3 separate regions of the Homo sapiens genome follow, and regions 2 and 3 are each linked to region 1. Evidence: fine-mapped QTL for protein levels in blood plasma. A gene starts in region 1. Each other region holds a variant in brackets. All regions are shown on one strand. Distances are from middle to middle.

Region 1 (6,996 bases):
TCACATTGGATTGTGATTGTTTTCAGTTGTTTGTTTATCTGTTGCATTTGACTGTGAGCGCTTCGAAGCATGGGCTGTCTGTGTCTTAGTCACATTTGCACCCCCAGATTCTACTACATGGCATGGAACAAAAATAGGTGTTCAACAAAGGATATATAAAGGAATAGAAGAATGAATGATTTCTCCTGTCCCCATTGACAAGCAGTAGTTGGCAGAATTGGAATATCTTCTTCCATGTGTGGAATGTAGGCTGGATTGACCTGGGCCATTGGACAGAAACTTAGAACACAAATCTGTGAGTTTTTTAATTTAATCATGCCAACCATGCATATGTGAGGCTGGTGTCTGACACCTTAATCCTTTATGTTTCACTAATTCCCAGTAGATTTGTACAATAGAAGAGAATTGCCTTGGCACTGCCTTGCAGTGGAAACATGTTAGAACTTCTGTGCAGAGGAAGTGTGTTTTGGGCAATGATAGATTCATGGCAGGGTGTTTTTTAAGAAGCACCATTTCTTGTCTGCATCTTTGAAACTCTAAGAACATGAGTGATATAACATTGAGGTCTCATGTAGTTGTTTGCTAAGAGGGATTGGTCACTATCTGGATGATAAGGAAGTGTCTCCGATAAATCTGCAGTGGACACGGGGACATGGCGTGTGCAAAACAGACTTTTATTTGTCCTGTCTCCCCTGATCCTCATAGTTTTAATGAAAATGGGAGAGAGGGAAGGACCTTCTGAGAGTCACGTGTGGTGGAGAGAGATGTGTACTTGGGGTCAGAGGCTCAGACTGGACTCCCAGGCGCACCAGTTAAAGGGCCAAGCACATGCCACACGCCTTCTTGGAGCCTTGATTTTCTCCTGTAAAATCAGAATAGTGCCCCTAAAGTTGTTGTGAGAATCGGAACGAAATGAGTACTGTTCAAGAAAAGAAGTAAAGCATTATTTTATTATTTTATTTTATTGCCAGCTAGAAGCTATTTCTATCACCCTTCTCCCAGGTCAAGGCGAAACTGAGATGGCAGTGTCGACTTGCCTGCTTCTATTTTCTTTTCCCTTTTCCCTCTGTTCATAGAATCCTGGGGACTGTTGTGTTCCTCCAGATCTGCTGTGTCCGATTTATTGAGCTCCCCACAATCACAGCAAGTGCTGTAGGAGCACACTCTCTTTTGTTCTCCTTCTATGTAGTCTTTTAAAAATATCACTATTGTGTAATGGGTATTGTGTAGTGTCCTGCGGCGATCACAATATGCAGATATATTCAAATGTGGTGCTTAAAAAGGAATTAAAGAGCCACATGAGCCAAATTGAAGACTGAACAAGATTAAATGTCAGATGAATAATATGAGACACGCACTTTCAACGCTCTACTTGAGTCTGTACTGGAAGGTCATTTGAACTTGCTTCCCATTTATCCATATGAAACACGAGAATAGCAATTTAATTTACCCTATCACATAGGAATGCCACGACAATGTGTATGAGGAGTGCTGAACTCCTTGGATGTATAGTTATTTTAAAAATAACTAGAACAGGAAATAGTGTATATGAACACAAGCTGATCTGTAAAGCCAGAAAAGACCACAGAACTAAGGCAGACTAATAAGGCATTGATTTTAATGACTGGCCATCCATCCAGCCCCAGAGCAACCTCCACTCTGTTTGGTTTTGATGAACAAAATAGAAGCAACAATCAAGACATCAGGAAATTACATGAAAAAACATTTAAATCTTAAAATCTTTCACAGGACAACAGTATTGATATTGGACTCAAAACTGACAAGAAGGAAGAAAACTTCCGTGTGCTCATATTTTTGAGATGACCACGTTGAGAACAGATGACTGACTCCGAGTTCCATTTTCTTTAAGATATTTTGAGCCTAAAGGTAATAATACCTTTTGATTAAAACACACACTCTCATATTTGTAATGAAATCAGAATCAGAACTCATAAGTGTCAGTAATTTCATTTAATATCAAACAGCCCATGGTTGAGGGTTCTGAAACTCTAAAATTGGAAGTAATTTTGCATTGTGCTTCACTCTGAAATGTACCCCTAAGAAAGTTGCTCTAATAAGTATTCTGGGGAGGAAGGTAAGTGCACATGCATCTCCTGAGGATGCAGGGAAGGAAACTGATGTCTGTTGAGCTTTCACTGTGTGCATATAGAGATTATGGCATATGATTAGTTCATTACAATGAAACTAAAGAGTGACATCCTGAAATTACAGAAGTCACAATGGAGAGTTAACCAGCAGCATGAGAATAGTGTGACTCGGTATATTGCAAATCCTCTTTTTCTCCACATCCAATGAGTCAGAAAATCTCCCAAACCATACCTTTAAGATGCATCCAGAACCTCACTGGTTCTCGTGCCCCACTGCTGTCCATCATGTCCAAGCACCGTCTTGCCTCACTGGGATTGTAAGAGCCTGCTTACCCGTGTCTCCTCTGATCAGAATTCTCCAGTGTTGCCCTTCACCTCTCAGATTGAAAGCCTAAACCCTTCCTGCAGCCTGTAAAGTCCTCAGTGCTGCCTCCCCTTCTCTGCTTTTAACTTAACTCCTGCTATTCATCTGCTTTCAGTCACTGCTAATCCCCGGGGTCTACAGCAGTGCTGGGGACAGAGTAGATCACAATAAGTATTTGCTGAATGAATGAATGAATGGCAATTAACCTCAGCATTTCCTGGATATTACTGTGTTTGGTTCTGTGATGGCCTCTTTTGGGTGACAGATGAGCAATAAAGATAAGTCTTGGTTCTTGTCCTCTTAAGAACAGGGGGGAGTGCACTAGTCAAGACTCATTGGTTATAGAAAATAGAAATCTCATTCCAAGTTAGCAAAAGGGAATGTGCTGTCCCCAGAACCAGCGTTCAGAAAGCGCAGGGGTGAGGTGGAGCCCGGGACTCTTGCATCTGCCCGGCTCTTTTCTACCCACCTGGCCGCTCTCCATGCGTGGCTTCCTTCTCTCCAGCTGGTGTCCCTGGAGGCTGCAGCCAGAGCCACAGGCCCATCCTGGCTACTGCACTGGTGTTCGGTGGCCGCTGTAAGAAGTAATTACAAACGGGGTGGGTGGCTTAAACAACAGAAATCTGCTCTCTCAGTCTTGGAGGCCAGAAGTCTGAAATCAGTTCCACTGGCCTGAAGTCCAGCACAGGCTCTGGAGGAGCCTCTTCCAGCCTCTGGTGAGGGCTGCCAGCATCCCTGGGCTGTGGGTGCATCGTTCCCATGGCTGCCTCCGTCCTCACCTGGATTTCTCTTGTGTGCGTCAATCTCCCTCTCCTCTGTTTTATAAGTTACATACATGACTGCATTAGGGCCCACCCAGATAATCCACGATAATCTCTCTGTCTCAGCATGCTTAATTGCTTTTTAATAAACCATGTAAGGTGACATTCACAGGGTCAGGGACTAGGACAGGAATGTCTTTTTGGGGAGGAAGGCTGTGTTTCAGCCTGCCATGGCTACCATCCTTCCAAATCCACGAATGATGGGAGAAAGAGACCTTTCCACCAGCCCGTGTTAGAAGAGTCCCAACTCTGAGTGACCCTGTCTAGGCCACTGCAGAGCCCTGAGCCAGTGGGGAAGTGGGGCTTTGGGAAGGAGTGGGAGTAAGGAGGGGGCCTGTCACTTGGTTGGAGTTGGGGAGGGAGCTACCATTCCCCCAAAATAGGCAGAGCCGGGTGGCTGCTGGTGAGACAGAAACCACACAGCTCCATTAAATGGCATGTGGGGAAACATGATAACATAAGGGAGTAATGCAGGAAAGTGTGTTTGGGCTGGGCGTGGTGGCTCACGCCTGTAATCCCAGCACTTTGGGAGGCCAAGGTGGGCGGATTGCTTGAGCTCAGGAGTTGGAGACCAGCCTGGGCAACGTGGGGAAACCCTGTCTCTACAAAACATACAAAAATGAGCTGGGCATGGTGGCTGAAACCTGTAGTCCCAGCCACTTAGGAGGCTGAGGCAGGAGAATGGCTTGAGCCTGGGATATGGTGGTTGCAGTGAGCCAAGACTGCACCACTGCACTCCAGCCTGGGCGGCAGAGGCAGAGGGAGACCCTGTCTCAAAACAAAAAGAAAAAGAAAAACAAACAAACAAAAACCTTTGCTGGGAAGCAGGAGAGTTTCCTGGAAAGGAAGGCGGTAGGTTTACACCTTTCCTGGGTGCTCAAATTCAAAGAGATACTGTATTTCTGGTTTTCATCTCTTTGCAATTCATTTACCTTTTTTTTTTCCTCTCTGCAGAACACAAATCCGGTCAAGTTTTGGGTTGTCATGAGGGAGAACTGACATAGCGCTGGGCGGTGAGTTCAGCCAGGTTATCTCTGCGAGGACACCGGTCGGCGGCGGACAGCAGCACGCGGCGTCCAGGACCCGGCCTTCCTAGAGCTTAGGTCACTGTAGCCTCCAGGGGCGCTCCGAGTCCATCTGGAGGGCCGCGAGGCTTCCAGGCTGGAAGGAGGAATAGGGAGAAGGAGGAATAGGGAGACCTGGGGCAGTGTTACAATTACAGAAAAGGGAGAGGCGAGGTCCGCTGAGTCCTTGGCCTGGGCAACAAGGCACACTGAAAACTGGGTTCCTTTTCGACCCGCATCGTGCGCGCCCTAGAAATGACAGCCAGACGGAGCAGGGTCTAAGGACGCTGAAAACCCCTGACGTGGGCGCGCCGGGTGCGGGTAGGGACGTGGAAGGACTGGGCTAGCCACAGGAACTACAGCGCTGCGGACCGGGTGAGGGGTCCCGGCCCGAGTCCCCACTTGGGGCGCAGAGGTGTTTCTGTAAGGGGACAAAGGGCACTCCTCGGCGCGATGGGCGACTTCCCCAGCCAGAAAATGAGAGGGTTAGACGAGGGGAGGAACTTCCTCAGCCACTTGGCCCGGCACAGCGACCGCCCCAAGTTCAGAACCGCTAAGTCAGTCCGGGGCGCTCCGGCCCCTTCGTCCCGCGCCCCGCCCGCCTCCAGCCCGGGCCCCGCCGCCCCCGTCGCCCCTGTCGCCCGGGTCGCCCCCGCCGGCCCTGGCCCCGGCCCCGCACACCGGCAGGGGGCGCCCGAGCGCAGCTAAAAGGCTCGGCGGGAGGTCGGCGGCCTCAGTGGCGGAGCGCGGCTGCCGGTGTGCGGCCGGGAGCGATCGCCGCGGGGCAGGGGCGCGGCGGGCACCGCGCAGAGCGCGCAGAACAGACGGACGGCGGCGGGGACCCGACGGCGGCGCCTCGGCACTCCCCAGACTCCGGCCAGCGCCCCCCTGCCAGCCGCAAGCACCCAGCCCCGGCCCACCCCGGGCTCTCGATGGCCCCCGAGGCCGGGGCGACCCTGCGCGCGCCGCGCCGGCTGTCCTGGGCGGCGCTGCTGCTCTTGGCCGCGCTGCTCCCCGTCGCCTCCTCGGCGGCGGCCTCAGGTACGCGCCGCGCCCGGGCCCCCGGCGCTCCTCAGCTCCCCGCGCACCCTCCTGCGCTCGGGCCCCGTCGTCCCGCTCAGTGCTGGCTACGGGTCGTGTCACTAGCCTGTGCGTCCTCGTCACTCGCGGGTCGGGGCACTTGGCGCCCTGTGTGGGTGGCGGGAGCGGGGACGCCTCGGTGCCCGGGGACCGCAGCGCGCTGGCGTTTAACTTTGCCGTCGCCCGCCTTGGAGTCGGGAGGCTCCAGCCGTCTAAGTGTCCCGGGAGATTCAGGCACAGCGGGGAAAAAAGGAAAAGAAAGGCGACTTTCAGCGTGCGGACTGGGGTAATGCCTTTCTTTGCCCAGAATTTCTCGGGAGCGTAGGTGGTCATCCTACTTTCTCCGCGTTCACCTCTCGCGAGGCAGGATGACGGGCGCACTCGGGAGACCGGAGGGAGGCAGAGCAGGGCTGTTCTAGAAGGTCGTGGGGGAAAGGCTGCGAGCTGCCGCAGGGCGTCGGGTGCCTCTGCGCTCCAGAGGAGAAGCGCTCCAGTGCCAGCTCGGCTCCAGGCGGCAGGAGGCCCGCGCGCCCGGGGGGAACGTTCAAGCTGGGAGAAAATGTTTGTCTTGAGAGGAGGGAGAGGGAAATGAGAAAGCTGATTCCAGAGAAACTCGCCCTTCCCCAATGGCTGAGGCTGCAGCCAGGATGGATGCTTCCTTTGAGAGCAATGCTTTTCAGAAAATGCTAGCGCGCTCCTGTCAGATTTCTTGCAAGCTTCCTGCAGAGAGAGACAAGTTTGTGGCGAGGTTTTCATTCCTAAGCCTTTGGCGGCCCTTGTTACCACCTCCTTTGCAGGCATTTTTACACTTGAAACTGGCTTTTAGGTTATTGGTTTGTAGAAATCCAAGAAGCAGACAATGATCGTCAGATACTATTCCAACGAGGGTACCAGTTTTATGATGCTATTTAGTGTATATATTGTTCTCTTACTTCAGGGGTAAAGGAAGAAAAGTTGGGGATCACATTACTTTGTGACTTTTTGGTAGATACATCATCCCAATGCTTGGCTCAGGTTTATGCGAGGTATTCTGATGCCAATGCCACTTTCTCATAAAAGGCAGTGCCTGCCGTAGGGTCTTTTTCTTCCCATTAGTGAACTCTAGGAAAGTATTCACTGAATACTTTGCACAGTACTTGAGAGGAATAAAACTAAATAAAGTCTTCCAACTTCCCCACCTACAACTCCTGGCTTTTGTTTTTCTAAGTGAAAATTTTCAGAGTGCTGGAAGAGTTTTTGTTTCTGAAAATGATCTGAAACTGGAACCAGTGCTGCCCTGGCTTTGTGGCGATTCCAGCCTTCTGCTTTTCCGATTCCTCTGCCACCTGCCCGTGGGTTGCATGTGAGTGGGTCCGAGCGGGGTTGTTTGTGAGAGCTCCTGGAATCCCACCGCGATCTGCACTCTTGCTTTTTCGCCTTCTGCTCTGTGAATCACTGTGCTGAGGAATGCTGGGGCTGGACAGCTTCCCAGCCCTTCTCTCTACTGTGTTGACGTGGGATCTACAGTCAAATGATGACCAGACTAGAGGTGGACAAAGGAGGACAGGCACATTTCAGAA
Region 2 (6,996 bases), 340 kb after region 1:
CGGGTGGTTGCAGTGTGAGCACTGTCCTTCTCCGGCTGCGTGCTTGCTTGCTCTAGGCAGCACCTCACATCCTTCCAGACCATAGGAGTCTCCGTGTCAGGTGCCACACCCACCATTTTTCTTTTCTCTACTCCTCTCCCCAGTAAAAGAGGCAACTGATGTCAGCCCCAGGCGCTGCTGCTGCCACCATGTCCACCAGGTTGCCATGCTCCCTGGCTGCCAGCCTGATGCCCTGCCAAGGTTCCTGGTGCCCACCGCGGAATGGACGGGGTGTAGGCTGAGGGCAGGTCTGCATGGACACTGGGTGATACACACCAAGCTGTGGTCAGTACAGCCCAGGCCCCCACAGGGCCTGTTGTCACCAACCCAGGCTGTTTCCCCTCATCTCTCTTTCCCTAAGAGGAGTTTTTGCCCAGGAATTTCCCTGGGCCCTCAGTGAGCTTGCCTTGTTGGACTCCAGACCTAGGCAGACATCGCCTCCTGAGCAAAACAGCCCCGGCTGAAAGCCCCCACGTGGAACCCACACACAATGGTTTATGCTGGTGCCCTTGGCTGGAAGCTGCAGGGTCCAGCTTTGAGCAATGGGAACAGAACACCAGGGCACCACATCTGAGAGTGTCAGGGCAAAGACCCCTCAGCCAGATGGACTTCATGTTCCTGCCAGAGAATTCGTAGCCCGGATTATTCTCTGGAAGACAGTGTCACAGCCAAAACTGAACACCAAGCTTGTTTCCCACTGTGTCAGAGCCTGGGTGTGCTCTACCCCAGCCAAGCTCAGAGCTCTGCAAATGAGAAGCGAGGTGAGCAAATGAGTGGAGACTTCGAAGCTTTCATCCTGTAACAAAGGGCAACCGCCTCCCTGTGCCATGACGCAGGTGGCAGGAGACCCGGGATGAGTGAAGGTGCAGGATGACGGCGGGATGGGGTCTGCTTCGGGAAGTGCCGCCAAGGCAACCCCTGAGCCCTGCCTGGGTTGATGAGGCAGGCTGAGCTGCCTAGAGTCCTCTCTTAGGGGACCTCCTTGGCCCTAGGCTGAAGCAGAGGGCGCACAGCCAGAGTTCCCAGTCAGAACGGGGCCTGTTAGAGACGTTCAGGAGGGCGCCAGGCTCGTTAGCATGATTCTTTTTCCTTTAGAAAAACAGACTCTCCTGGAACAACTAGGCCAACTCCAGCTCCTGCCCCACCCACCTGAGTCTGGCCAGGCAGCCCGAGCCCAGCGCCCAGAGCTCTCCTTGACCATGACCTCATCCCCAAACCCTCCAGGCTGGGTCCCTGCCCTCCACCGCATGAGGCAGGGAAAGAAAGGAGAAGGGAAGGTCCCAGTTCAAATATCAGGGTGCCTGTCCTCTCCCCAAGACAACCTCCCTGTGCCACCCCTAGGGAGGGTCTCCCATGTCATGGACAGCCGCACAGCTCTGCTGAGCTGCCCCCCACAGCAGTGGGCCCAGCCCTGGGCCTGGGGGACATTTTCATAATACTGACGCCCAGCCATCCTGCCCTCACCTCGGGAATCCTCACCTCCAATTGGAGGGGAGGTGAAGCAGAAGGCACGGATCTTTTTAGAAGTTCCTCAGATGGCTTTTAAAAGTTCCTGCATCTTGTCATCAGGGGCCTCTGCACTCTGCGGTATAAATTATGGGGACAGGGAAGACACACCCCTGCCCTCACTGAACTCCCAGCCACTCTGGTGGTTCCTGTTCACACAACCTCACATATATGAGGCCTCCTCAGAAGGCTCTAGGGCAATGAGGAAGACAGGGCTGGGGGTCAGCCCTGGTGAAGGGGTAGAGAGTGACCCAGGCTGGGTGTGGTCTGGAACTGATGGCCAAGAAGGTGTAACCCTTGAGGTCAGGTTTACTGCAGGGGACTGTGTACCTCCCTGAGGCTTCTTTCAGGTTGGAATAGGGACCTAGAGGCCTCTGAGGAGTCAGCCTTCTGCTCCCCAGAGGAAGGCAACAGCTCTCCAGGATGTCAGGTTCCTAACCAGCCATCCACAGGTAAGTGAGGTCTCATTTTCAGTGAGGGCAACAGGGAGCCTTGGAGAATGGGGACAATGTGCCAGGAGCCGGGAAAGGCTGCAGTGTGGCATGTTCGCCCTGGCCTGCAGGCCTCAGAGTGGAGGATCACCCACTCCACCTGGCCCAGCCCTGCCTCTTGCTCCCTGCTTTCACCCCCTGCCTCCACCATCCAGGACTGGGCACTGTGGGCACTGCCAATCATAGCCATGCCTCCTTTCCACCTCAGCAGTTAGAAGTCTGTGGAGCTTAAAGTGGAAGAAGGGACTGCTGGGTGCTGCCTTTCCTTGGAACCATCTTCCTGCCCCTTCTTGTCATTATTAAAAGGTGAATCCAGGGCCGGGAGCAGTGGCTCAAGCCTGTAATCCCAGCACTTTGGGAGGCTGAGGCGGGCGGATCACGAGGTCAGGAGATCGAGACCATCCTGGCTAACACGGTGAAACCCTGTCTCTACTAAAAAATAGAAAAAATTAGCCGGGCATTGTGGTGGGCACCTGTAATCCCAGCTACTTGGGAGGCTGAAGCAGGAGAATAGTGTGAACCTGGGAAGCGGAGCAATCTGAGTCTTGGTTGTAACAACGCCTATAAAGTTCCACCTCTGGTAAGTGTTCTACTCTCTGCTTCTATGAGATCAACTTTTTTAGCCTCCACATATAAGTGAGAAGATGTGGTATTTATCTTCCTATGCCTGACTCATTTCACTTAAAGTAATGTCTCCAGGTTCATCCATTTTGCTGTGAATGACAGGATCTCATACTTTTTGTGGCTGAGTAGTATTCCACTATGTATGCACACTGCATTTTCTTTATCTATTCACCTGTAAATGGACACTAGAGGCTGGGAAAGGTAGCAGGGAGGCAGGACTAGGGAGAGATTGGTTAAATGATATAAAATTGCAGCTAGCTAGGAAGAATAAGTTCTAATATTCCATAGCACTGTAGGCTGACTATAGTTAACAATAATTTGTTTTATATATATATATATAAAACATATATGTGTATATATGCGTATATATGTATATATGCGTATATATGTATATATGTGTATATATGTATATATGTGTATATATGTATATATGTGTGTATATATACATATACACATATACGTATATATGTATACATGTATACGTATATGTGTATGTATACATGTATACGTATATGTGTATGTATACATATATGTATATATGTGTGTATATATGTATATATGTGTGT[G/GTA]TATATATATATACACATATACATATATTTGAGACAGAGTCTTGCTCTGTTGCCCAGCCTGGAGTGCAGTGGCGCGATCTCGGCTCAATGCAATCTCTGCTTCCCAGGTTCAAGTGATTCTCCCACCTCAGCCTCTCGAGTAGCTGGGATTACAGGTGTGCACCACCACACTTGGCTAATTTTTTTGTGTGTTTTTAGTAGAGATGGGGTTTCGCCATGTTGGCCAGGTTGATCTTAAACTCCTGGCCTCAAGTGATCCACCCACCTCAGCCTCTCAAACTGCTGGGATTACAGGCATGAGCCACCGTGCCCAGCCTGTTATATATCTTCAAATAGCTAGAAAAGAGGACTTTGACTATTCCCAACACAAAGAAATGATAAATGTTTGAGATGATGGATATGCTAATTATTCTATTTCATCACTATACATGTTTCAAAACATTACTATGTACTCCATAAATACAATTATTGTATCAATTTTATAAATTAAAGAATTTTTTAAATTTCACCTCATAATATTGTTTTGAAAATTAAATAAATAGGGGAGAGAAATGAACAGGTGGAGCAGCAGGGAGTTTTAGGCCAGGAAAAGTATTCTGCGTGATACTGTATTAATGCCATTGTCAAAACCCCTAGAACCATACAACACAGGGAATAAACACTCACATAAACTTGGACTTTTGTTAAAAGTAATTTTCAAGCTTGGTTCATTGTTTGCAATAAATGTAGCACACTCATGCAGGGTGTTAATCTCAAGGAAAAATGGAGGCAGGGGGTTTGGTATATGGGAGCTGTGTACTTTCCGATCAATTTTCCTGTAAATCTAAAACTGCTTTAAAAAATAAAGTCTTTTTTTTAATGACATGAGACAATATACTTAACGTATTTGCGCACTGCCAGACATGTTTGCTGCTGTAGTTACCACCCTTTGCCTGAAGCCTGGGATTTGAGTTCATTTTCTGTCATAGAACCTGGTGAAGCAGAACAGCCCCATTCAGACTTTACAGCCAACAAGGGTGTTTCCTTTGGTCCACTGTCCCCGGAGCAGCCCTCCCTTTAGATATTGCTGAAGGTATGTGTCTGCCGCAGCCCCTGTGTCAGTCTGGGTTCTCCAGAGAAACAGAACCAATAAGATATTTATGTTAAGAGATTTATTTTAGGAAATTGGCTCCCATGATTGCTGCAGCTGGCAAGTCTGAAACCTTAGGGCCGGCCAGCAGCTGGAAACTCAGGTAAGAGCTGATGTCACAAACTTGAGTCTGAAGTTTCTGGGGCAGTCTGGCAGGCTGGAAACACAGGCAGAATTCCTATGTTTCAGTCTTGAGCCAAAATTCCTCCTTCCCTGGAAATCTCAGTTTTTGCTCTTACGCCCTTCAACTGATCAAATGAGGCCCACCCACATGGTGGAGGGTCATCTCCTTTGCTTAAAGTCAACTTATTATACATGTTAATCACATCTACAAAAATGCTTTTACTGCAACACCTAGACTAAGGACTAGGGTTTGACCAAACAACTGGGCACCACAGTCTAGCCAAGTTGATACATACAATTTAACTATCACAACTGCTTTCCTAAACAAACAAGAAGATGGAAAAGGATACGTTTGGAAAATGTTTGCCTTTCAAATGTTCTTAAAGAGATGCACATCAGTGCATTCCCATCTGACTGCCAGGCTAGTCGGGGAGTGGGGTATTCTCTTGTACCCCTCCTACATGCCTCTGAAAAAAAGAACTTCTGCCCCTTAGGTGGCCTGCAACATCATACCACACATGCTTGGGGATCTGGGAGCAGAGGACAGAGCTCCTTGGTTTAAGAAGCTGCTCATTTGATGCAGAAATCCACTTGCCTGTATTCATTATTTTGGACACTCCTTGCAGCAACCAATCCAAGCTCCGTCTTCTTCCGTCAGTTGACTTAATACCAGAACTTCTTCCCAAACAGACTGAGAAGCTAAGTGCCCTTGCTTTTGAGTTGGAGCGAGCAAGGGCCAATCCTCATATCATAGGGCCAGAAGCCACAATACAAGGACATCATCATTTCCAATGAGCACTTGGTCCTGGAATTCTCAGCACTAATCAAGTGGAACAAAGAAGGCCCCTTCCCTTTCAGTGCCTCCATGAGTGGAGACTTATCTCTACAAAGTCCAAAGTATGGAGAAATAAGCGTAGGTCATTTTATTATGACATTCTTTGTACTGTGCCCTTTTGGAAGGATGAGTGATTAGGAGTTGTTAGAACTTGGCCTGACAGGTAGGTTGGATTAAGGGAGCCATCACTGTCCAAAAGTTTTGAGGACACTCAGCCAAGAAGGGACATTTTATCCTTAGGGCCACCCTCAGGTAGGCGTTGGGATGAAGAAATAAGGGAGTTTAGAAAGAGATTTTTCCCAGGGGTTCAGAACTCATCGGGGTTCTGCTACTAACTGAGGCTGCCCACTCAACCTCAGGCAGCCAAAGTCCCTTTCCACAACATGGCAGCTCACCCTGCAGAGGAAGGCTCGTCCGGGTGGCCCCCGAGGCCCCTCTATCAGAGGGCGGCTCTTTGAAGATGAATCTGTCTCCCTGGCTGGGTCCTCCACTTAGGACTCCTGACCTACTGGGGGGTGGGGGGGTCCCCCGTGGTAAGTGCTCAGCCTGCTGTGAATGCAAATCCCCACCCCTACACTGACATCTCAGAAGAGGCAAGAAACTCGGGACAGAAAAGCCCACATTGCTTGTGCTTCAAAGATTTGAAAAAGGGGGCTTGTGGGCCAGGTTGGCCAGAAAGGTTGACCTTCCTGAGCCCATTTCCTCACCTCCCTGTCGACCTCACCATGATGTCCGGAGGATCAGATGATAAAAACTGCACAGGAAGCCATGTTGGGGAGACTAAATAGCGTGCAGGGGAGAAACGTGAAACTCTAAATGCAAGCAGTGCAGCAAGCAGGGTATTACTCTCTTAACTAGACAAGGTAGGTTCTAGGGCAGCTGGATAATTTGTTCCCTAAAAATTAATTAATTAATTAATTAATTAAATCCAGACAATTACCTGAGAACACAAAAGTGATCTGCGCTGATGGTTCCCGTGTTATCTCACATATTCTAAGTGTCATTGACAGGGGTCTCAGACATGGGTCTGACTGGCTCCTCCCAGCTCCTCCTCTGTGGGCACTATTTTGTAAGTTCCTTTCCTCTGTTAAACCAGTTACCTCTCTGCTAGCTGCTTTTTCTGAAGATGTGTCTGAATACTGCTATCTCCACTCTGGCATTCTTTGTATTTGAAAGTTCATAGATGTTTCCTGTCTTTTAAGAGGAGTTTCAGATGGAAAGGAGGATGAGTTCATGGACCCCACCTGTCAGATTTAATTAAATATCACATTGGCATTTATAAGAGATTTCTGATTCCATGGTGTAGGTTTAATCATTCTTTGAATTTTGGGGGGATTTCTGCTGAGGACATGGGAGTGTTCTCAGGAAACATCAAGGAACCAAGAAAGGAACAATCTGCATTCTTTCACCCAGGAGAAGACACCTCCAGAAAGCTCCTGTTTCAAACAACACAGTGGAAAGAACCCTACCTCTAAGGCAAGGGAGCAGGGCTGCTGGGGAGCTGGAGGTGTTACGGGAAAGTGGTCCGGATCCAGACCCCAAGAGAGGGTTCCTGGATCTCGCACAAGAAGGAATTCTGGGCAAGTCCATAGAGCAAAGTGAAAGCAAGTTTATTAGGAAAGTAAAGGAATAAAAGAATGGCTATGCCATAGGCCGAGCAGTCCCAGGGGCTGCTGGTTGCCC
Region 3 (6,996 bases), 300 kb after region 1:
CTTTCCTACCCTCCCAAGAACAACTATTCAAAAACAACAAAGCCACCAGGAGGCCAAGTCCCCAGAAACCACATGATTTAATAGCTCAGATCCATCTCTAACCCATCCCCTCCTCTCTGTAAACAGCCCCACACTGGCAGAGATCATTCCAAGCGATGAGACGAAGCGAGCTGCCCCAGGGAATGTTCGAAACCACAGCTTGTTAGGAATGCCCAATACAGTGAACACCTCTGTGAAATATTTCCCTCTCTCACCAAGCATTTGCAGAGAACAAACAGACAATACATAATTTTGGAGCAGATTTATTTTTTTCCATGATCTTTGCTCTCTTTTAACAAGCAACCTGTTGTGTATGTTAGCTTAAAATAAAATCAAATCCTGACAATGATTATCAAAATCTAGAACCCCAAGTATAAAAGCTATCTCTCAGTAAGCAGTATTCTGGGATTTCAAATACAAGGTCCATAGATCCTCAAGGGATCCTTGCATGGAATTCAGTGGTCTGTGGACCCTCTAAAATTGTATACAAACTTTTGTGGCTATATGAATATCCACACAGTCTTTGAAATTCAAAATTAGGTACCACATTTTAATACCTTATCAAAATTTTTGATACCAAAACCTAATTTACAACATATTAAATTTTCTCTTGTGGGGGTGCTGTTATCAAGACACAATACCCTAGCTAAATAAACATTTAGTTTGGTTAACCACACAGAGGACATAATAAATTAATTTCCCAATTGCTATTCCATGCTGTTGACAAAATTATCAGTTTGGTCTTTAACTCTCTCTCTCTCTCTCTATCAGTTAGCCTTGTGCAAAACACTATTTTGCAAAGCAGATATTTTTAACCACACTTTGCAGATGTGAAACCTGAGACTCAGAGAGGTAGTAAGTTATTGGGGCCCTCCGCTGGTAAATAGAGGGACCAAGATCCTAAAACCAGCCTATTGGGTCCTGAAGCCTGTGTCTCTTCAGTGAGGCAAACCACTATCTGTTGAAATTTATAATTTGTTTCCTGAAATGAAGAATTTCAGTCCAAGATTTTCCTTTAGTGGTGGGATGGTTAAACAAGTATATTTCACACCAGCAATTACATTCGTGAAATATTTTTAAATATTGGTGGTTCTGACATGGTAAAAGTCGTTATAATGTATTTTTTCTAATTTTAGCTCTGAACAATCAATTAATGGCAGCCTAAAATGCGGCTGTAACCCAGTTTAGAACTTTCCAAGAATCCTCCCATTGGAGCCAGATGAAGCAGCCTAATGTAGCAAATGAGAACTTCTGAGTCCAGAGCGGGGCAAGCTCCAATCTGCCAATAGCCTTGCCAAGAGAGCTGGAGGAAGTGGGGGAGTCACGTAACCGCCTACCTCCTCTTTCCCAAAACAGGAGCCACATACCAACCTCTCAGCAGGGTGGGTTGGGGCCACAAGACTTAGGGCCTACCTCTCCTCGGTGGCCAATGACATTTAAAGAAAACAGTTGACTGCATCTGTGAAGATGTCATAACGTGGAGCTTCCCTGGGAGAAAATAATTTGGGAAGGGAGGGAGACATTACTGATATCTTTAAAACACAGAGTGTTCAAAATGAGAGAACCACGTGCTTCTCTCCATACCACTGGGGTGGTTTTGGTGCCCGTCTTTGGTGTGCATTGCGGGTCTTTGTGGGGCCTGTGGTAACAACTCATGATTCATCAACTACAAGTTACCATCACAATTTCCAAGTCATTGGGAAGTATTTCATCCCCCAGAGCGGCAATTTTCTCCATCAGCAAGAGAATCAAAAGGAAGTGGGAACATCTGGCTCGATATGAAAGCCTGAGAGTGCCCCGACATACACAGGCTACGGAGAAGTCGGCCCCTTGCAGATATTGGAAAGCAAAGCTCCGTCTACCTTCGCCAGCCACAGTTTCCAGCATCGCTTCCAAAAATCAATCTTGCATATTTGCTGGCGGACCCACTTCTAAGTGATTGGATTCTAGCACACTCCAATCAAGCATCAGCTTTGGTTCTTATGACGCAGTCACTAACATCACACACGACCAAAACAGCAGGGCGCTCTCTCAAGTCTCCTCTTACTGTGCCATCGTGGGGAACAGTCTCATGTGAGTGCAGGCGTGGGCCGGCTTCCCTTAGTTGGGAAGGGAGGGAGATATTATTCATATCCTCTCCACAGTGCACTCGCTTCTTCATGCTCATGTAGAAACACAGACATGTGCCTGTGGCTAGAACTCTTATCCAGGTTGATTTAACCTAGAGAAATGACGCTTTAATGTCACCATCAAAAAGCTAACCAATAGTTCTTAATGGAGGGATTACTGCCCCCTAGAGAGCATTTTGGAAATGTGTAGGGGCTTTATTTTACTTTATTTATGTATTTATTTGAGAGGGAGTTTTGCTCTTTCGCCCAGGCTGGAGTGCAGTGGCACGATCTCGACTCACTGCAACCTCCGCCTTACGGTTTCAAGTGATTCTCCTGCCTCAGTCTCCCGAGTAGCTGGCATTACAGGCTTCCACCACCACGCCTGGCTACTTTTTGTATTTTTAGTAGAGACAGGGCTTCACCATGTTGGCCAGGCTGGTCTCGAACTCCTGACCTCGTGATCCACCCACTTGGGCCTCCCAAAGTGCTGGGATTACAGGCGTGAGCCACCGCGCCTGGCCCTGTTTTACTTTATTGATAGTCATGAAGATGGGGTGTGACCTCATTTAGTGGGTGGAGGCCTGGAATACTAGAGGGCCCACAATGCAGAAGACGATCTTGTGGAACTTTTCAATGTCCCACCAGACAGTTATGCAGGTGACAAACTTGTTTATAATTTTCTGAGCCTGGAACCCAACTCCACTTTTACATATAACTACAAATTATTTACAGTTAGGATGGAGAATCACTCTTCTAGCACATAATTAGGGGTTCTAGGAATGTCTGGTGTCAGCCAGGAAAGGGTCCAAGCTCTGAAACGAAATCATCAGGCTTTGAAATTGGGCTCTTCCATTTACCAATCTGTGCCTCAGTTTCCTCCTCTGTCAAATGGGGCTCACAACAGCACCTGCTTCATGAGATGTGAGAATTAAATTAATGCATATTAAGCCCTTAGAACAGTGCCAGTTGTTTCTCACCTTGTGACAACGAAAGAAATATTAGAAAAATATTCAGTATAATCCCATTCCTCTGAAACAGCATCCAAATGTCACCTGTTAGTAACATCTCTAAGATGAGAGAATGTTCTAATTTAACACTGCTATTTTCCTTCAAGGTGGCAAACAACAATCATTCACATTTTTACATCTTTTAGTAGAGTTCTTGATTTAGTAAAAATCAGACTTAGGTCAAGTTGGACATTACTGAACTGCTGGCCACACTGCAAGCCCAGGTTAGAGCTGGAGTCAGTCCCAGAGAGACTGGAAGGAGAAAGTATCCCACACTCATTTTAAAGTAAATAAAAAGATTCTCAAGTATATTTCTCCATCTTTCAATATTTTGAGCATTTTCAGACACTTAGAGAGTGTGAGCAAAAATATTTAATCTTTAAGTTAACAGAGGGGCTTAAAAACAATAAGATACTGCAGCAATCTGAGGACTGAGGGGCTTCAGGATGACTTTAAGAAGAGACTTCTGCAGAGCTCAGATGCTCGATACGCAAAGGAAATCTGTCGGAGCGGCGTCCAGCTAGCTCCGTGCGTGCACAGACACTTGAGCATTATTTTCCTGGCACTCAGCAATTCATTCCCCAGACCTGAGAACATCATCTAAATCTTAATTGACGCCATAGCTACACTTGACTGGGAGAGGAAGACGAGTCCAGGCTCCATATGTATGTAAATCACATATTATAATTGGATCTGTAATTCTCATTCCCTTATTCACTTTTTCTAATTTAATTCACAATAATATATAGATATAAGGTATAGGTTATTGTAAATTAAATTAGATATATAATATGTGTGTTTAGATACAGAGAGACAGAGACAGTGTGTACCATTTTATAATATGAGAGCTCTGCATCTTCTAAGAC[C/G]TGAGGAAGGTCATCCCAGCTTTCTGTCAGGAAAGGAAACAGCACTTCTCAAAAAATAGAAAGGTAACATGTTCACCTAGTGCTCCAGCACCTCATCCATTCTGGGGATGCTGTAGCTGCCATTTTTTTTTTTATAATTGACTTCCCCCTATACTCAGTTACTTCTAGAATGGGACTCAGCAAACCTTTCCTTAGAAAGAGAGAAATAGTAAATATTTTAGGCTTTGTGGACTGTCTCTGTGTCTCTGTTTTCTTCCCTTTTTTTTTTTTTGAGACAGAGTCTCACTCTGTCGCCCAGGTTGGAGTGCAGTGGTGCGATCTCCGCTCACTGCAAGCTCCACCTCGTGGGTTCACGCTATTTTCCTGCCTCAGCCTCCCGGGTAGCTGGGACTACAGGCACCCGTCACCATGCCTGGCTAATTTTTTTTTTTTTTTGTATTTTTAGTAGAGACGGGGTTTCACCATCTTAGTCAGGATGGCTCAATCTCCTGACTTCGTGATCCGCCCGCCTCGGCCACCCAAAGTGCTGGAATTACAGGTGTGAGCCAGCCACCGTGCCTGGCCTTTTTTTTTTTTTTGGCAGAGTCTTGCTCTGTCACCCAGGCTGGAGTGCAGTGGCATGATCTCGGCTCACTGCAACCTCTGCCTCCTGGGTTCAAGTGATTCTCCTGCCTCAGCCTCCTGAGTAGCTGGGATTACAGGTACACACCACCACACCCTGCTAAGTTTTGTATTTTTAGTGGAGACTGTGTTTCACCTTGTTGGCCAGGGTGGTCTTGAACTCCTGACCACAAATAATCTGCCCGCCTTGGCCTCCCAAAATGCTGGGAATACAAGCGTGAGCCACTGTGCCCGGCTTCTTCTTCTTCTTCTTTTCTTACAACCATTAAATTTTAAAAAATCATTTCTGCTAGATGTAGCTTGTGACATAGTTTACCAACCCCGGCTTTAGAATGGGCCTAATAGTATTGCCCAGGATGGATTCAGCTCACGTGAAGGCTTGCATTCTTTGGCAGAGCATGATATGGAGCTGGAGAGGAGGGGAGAGGAGAACAGAAGGCAAGGTGGGAAAGGACACCTGGCAGAGACAACATCTGGATCCTGAACCTGGAGGAGAAATCCACTTATATCTCACTTTAGATTTGCCAGCTGCTTTTATTTTTATTTGGACTTACAGAAAGGTGAGGCTGGGTGTGGTGTCTCATGCCTGTAATCCCAGCACTTTGGGAGGCCGAGGCAGGTGGATCACGAGGTCAGGAGATGGAGACCATCCTGGCCTACATGGTGAAACCCCATCTCTACTAAAACACAAAAAAAATTAGCTGGGAGTGGTGGTGTGCGCCTGTAGTCCCAGCTACTCGGGAGGCTGAGGCAGGGGAATCACTTGAACTGGGAGGCAGAGATTGCAGTGAGCTAAGATCACGCCACTACACTACAGCCTGGGCAACAGTGAGACTCCGTCTCAAAAAAAAAAAAAAAAAAAAAGAAAGAAAGAAAGGAAGGAAGAAAGAAAGAAAGAAGGAAAGAAAGAAAAAGAAAGAAAGAAAGAAACAAACAAACAAAAAGAAAGGTAAGAGGCAAGAGGATTGGGAAAGAATTCTCCATGTATAGTGACCAGCCTTGAAAAACAGAATTAATACCTGCTGTTGGAGAAAAGGGCAGGCAAACTTACTGCCCATCATGAAAGATTTGGGTTCTCTGAGCTCAGGGATCTCCTCCTATAATGCAAGTCACTATGTGAATAAGTGTCATCTGGCCTTCTTCACACGCCCTATGGAAATTGGGGCTCAGGACAGATATGAACAACTGCTGATACTCTGCCTACTGCTATTGCTGTGAGTATTAAAGTCTTATGTTTCTGACCCAGGCATCTCATGACTGTCTACGCCTGTGCCTTGAACAGGAAGAATCTACAGAGAAAGGAACTAGGAATCAAGGAAGCATCCCCCAAAACATTCTGTGCCATCTTCAGATTCTCTTATGTTAATGAAACAATTTTATATAATTCTCAGGTTTTCCTCTTCAAAAGATTCAGAAGGCTGTGAGACATTTGAGAGCAATGACTATATTTTGTTTACCTTTGTGTCTGGCTTGGAATCTAAAACAATACCTAGCATAATATGGATATTTAGTAAAGAAAGAGAGGAAAGAAGGAAGGAAAAAAGGAAGGAAGGAAAGGGGGAGGGGAGGAAGGAGGAAGGATACGGAGAGCGAGGGGGAAGAAAGGAAAGAGGAAGTGCTCACTTATGTAAATACTGTTATAAGAATTTTCTATGACTATTCAATTTTTCAAAACACAGAGAAAAATCAGATATTTATAGCTCTGCCACTTTAAAGCATCAGATGAATTTATCTATGTCTTTCTTTACCCACAGGTTGAGAAGAAAATACGGGAGTGAACTGTAGCAATAAACGGTTTGTGGGTAATTTTGGTACTTTAATGTGGCTTCTAAAATGTGTACTACATGACTTAGGAAGGAATATTTAAGGAGCCCAGCTGCACTAACGTGGGTTGCTATTGTGTTATTACTAAAATAGCTGAGAGAGACTCTCTGTGCAGTCACCCTAAGTGAGTTATTTTGAGTGAGTTGCTATGGTGGTATGACCTGCATGTATGACTAAACATACAAAAAAGCCAAAAGGCCAGAAATGAAGTGTCAGCTATGAAGATGCTAGTGATAAAAGCCTACCCCAAAGCAATGACAGATACTTTGAAAATACTTTGAGGGAATAAAGCACTCTTAGGGAACACAGGGTTTGAAGTAGGACTGTGTTGTTATTATTGAGTTATTTTCCAATAATTTTCGAGAGTCTGCCACAGCTTTGAGGCCAGTCTTTTATATCATTGCCCAGGCAGGGGCTCCATAGCTCAGGGGTTAGAGCACTGCTCTTGTAGTATCATTGCCCTACACAAGTGAATTTGGGTAAAAAGGAAAACAGAAGGAACTTTAACAGGCAAGTATGGAGACTGAA

Which allele goes with the higher level. Positions count from the first base shown, and alleles are read on the strand shown. Strength reflects both the effect of a copy and how common the allele is.
With allele G in place of GTA in region 2, the plasma level of the protein whose gene starts at base 5,093 in region 1 is higher (weak association).
In carriers of allele C in region 3, the plasma level of the protein whose gene starts at base 5,093 in region 1 tends to be higher than with G alone (moderate association).

Evidence for each region. PIP is the posterior inclusion probability: the model's chance that the variant is causal. The UK Biobank Pharma Proteomics Project read protein levels with antibody pairs (Olink). The fine-mapping took linkage between variants from a reference panel, not from the people measured, so its PIPs are less certain.
Region 2: its variant is fine-mapped to the plasma level of the FNDC1 protein (UK Biobank, PIP above 0.99).
Region 3: its variant is fine-mapped to the plasma level of the FNDC1 protein (UK Biobank, PIP 0.94).

The regions. Positions count from the first base shown.
Region 1 is chr6:159,164,308-159,171,303 of GRCh38, forward strand. It overlaps FNDC1 (fibronectin type III domain containing 1), which reads left to right and starts at 5,093. Exons shown (of 23, transcript NM_032532.3): 1 at 5,093-5,398. The coding sequence starts at 5,290. It overlaps FNDC1-AS1 (FNDC1 antisense RNA 1), which reads right to left and starts at 5,700. Exons shown (of 4, transcript NR_121668.1): 1 at 5,505-5,700; 2 at 4,226-4,454; 3 at 2,942-3,047; 4 at 1,592-1,881. RefSeq lists a silencer at 4,972-5,141 and an enhancer at 5,948-6,447.
Region 2 is chr6:159,504,591-159,511,586 of GRCh38, forward strand. No RefSeq gene overlaps it. Among named protein-coding and RNA genes, the nearest start is that of LINC02529, 120 kb to the left of the region's middle. The variant G/GTA (reference allele first, on the strand shown) is at 3,227.
Region 3 is chr6:159,461,308-159,468,303 of GRCh38, forward strand. LOC101929142 (a long non-coding RNA gene) reads left to right here and starts at 2,050. Exons shown (of 3, transcript XR_943178.4): 1 at 2,050-2,112; 2 at 5,040-5,204; 3 at 6,399-6,440. RefSeq lists an enhancer at 1,205-1,710. The variant C/G (reference allele first, on the strand shown) is at 4,024.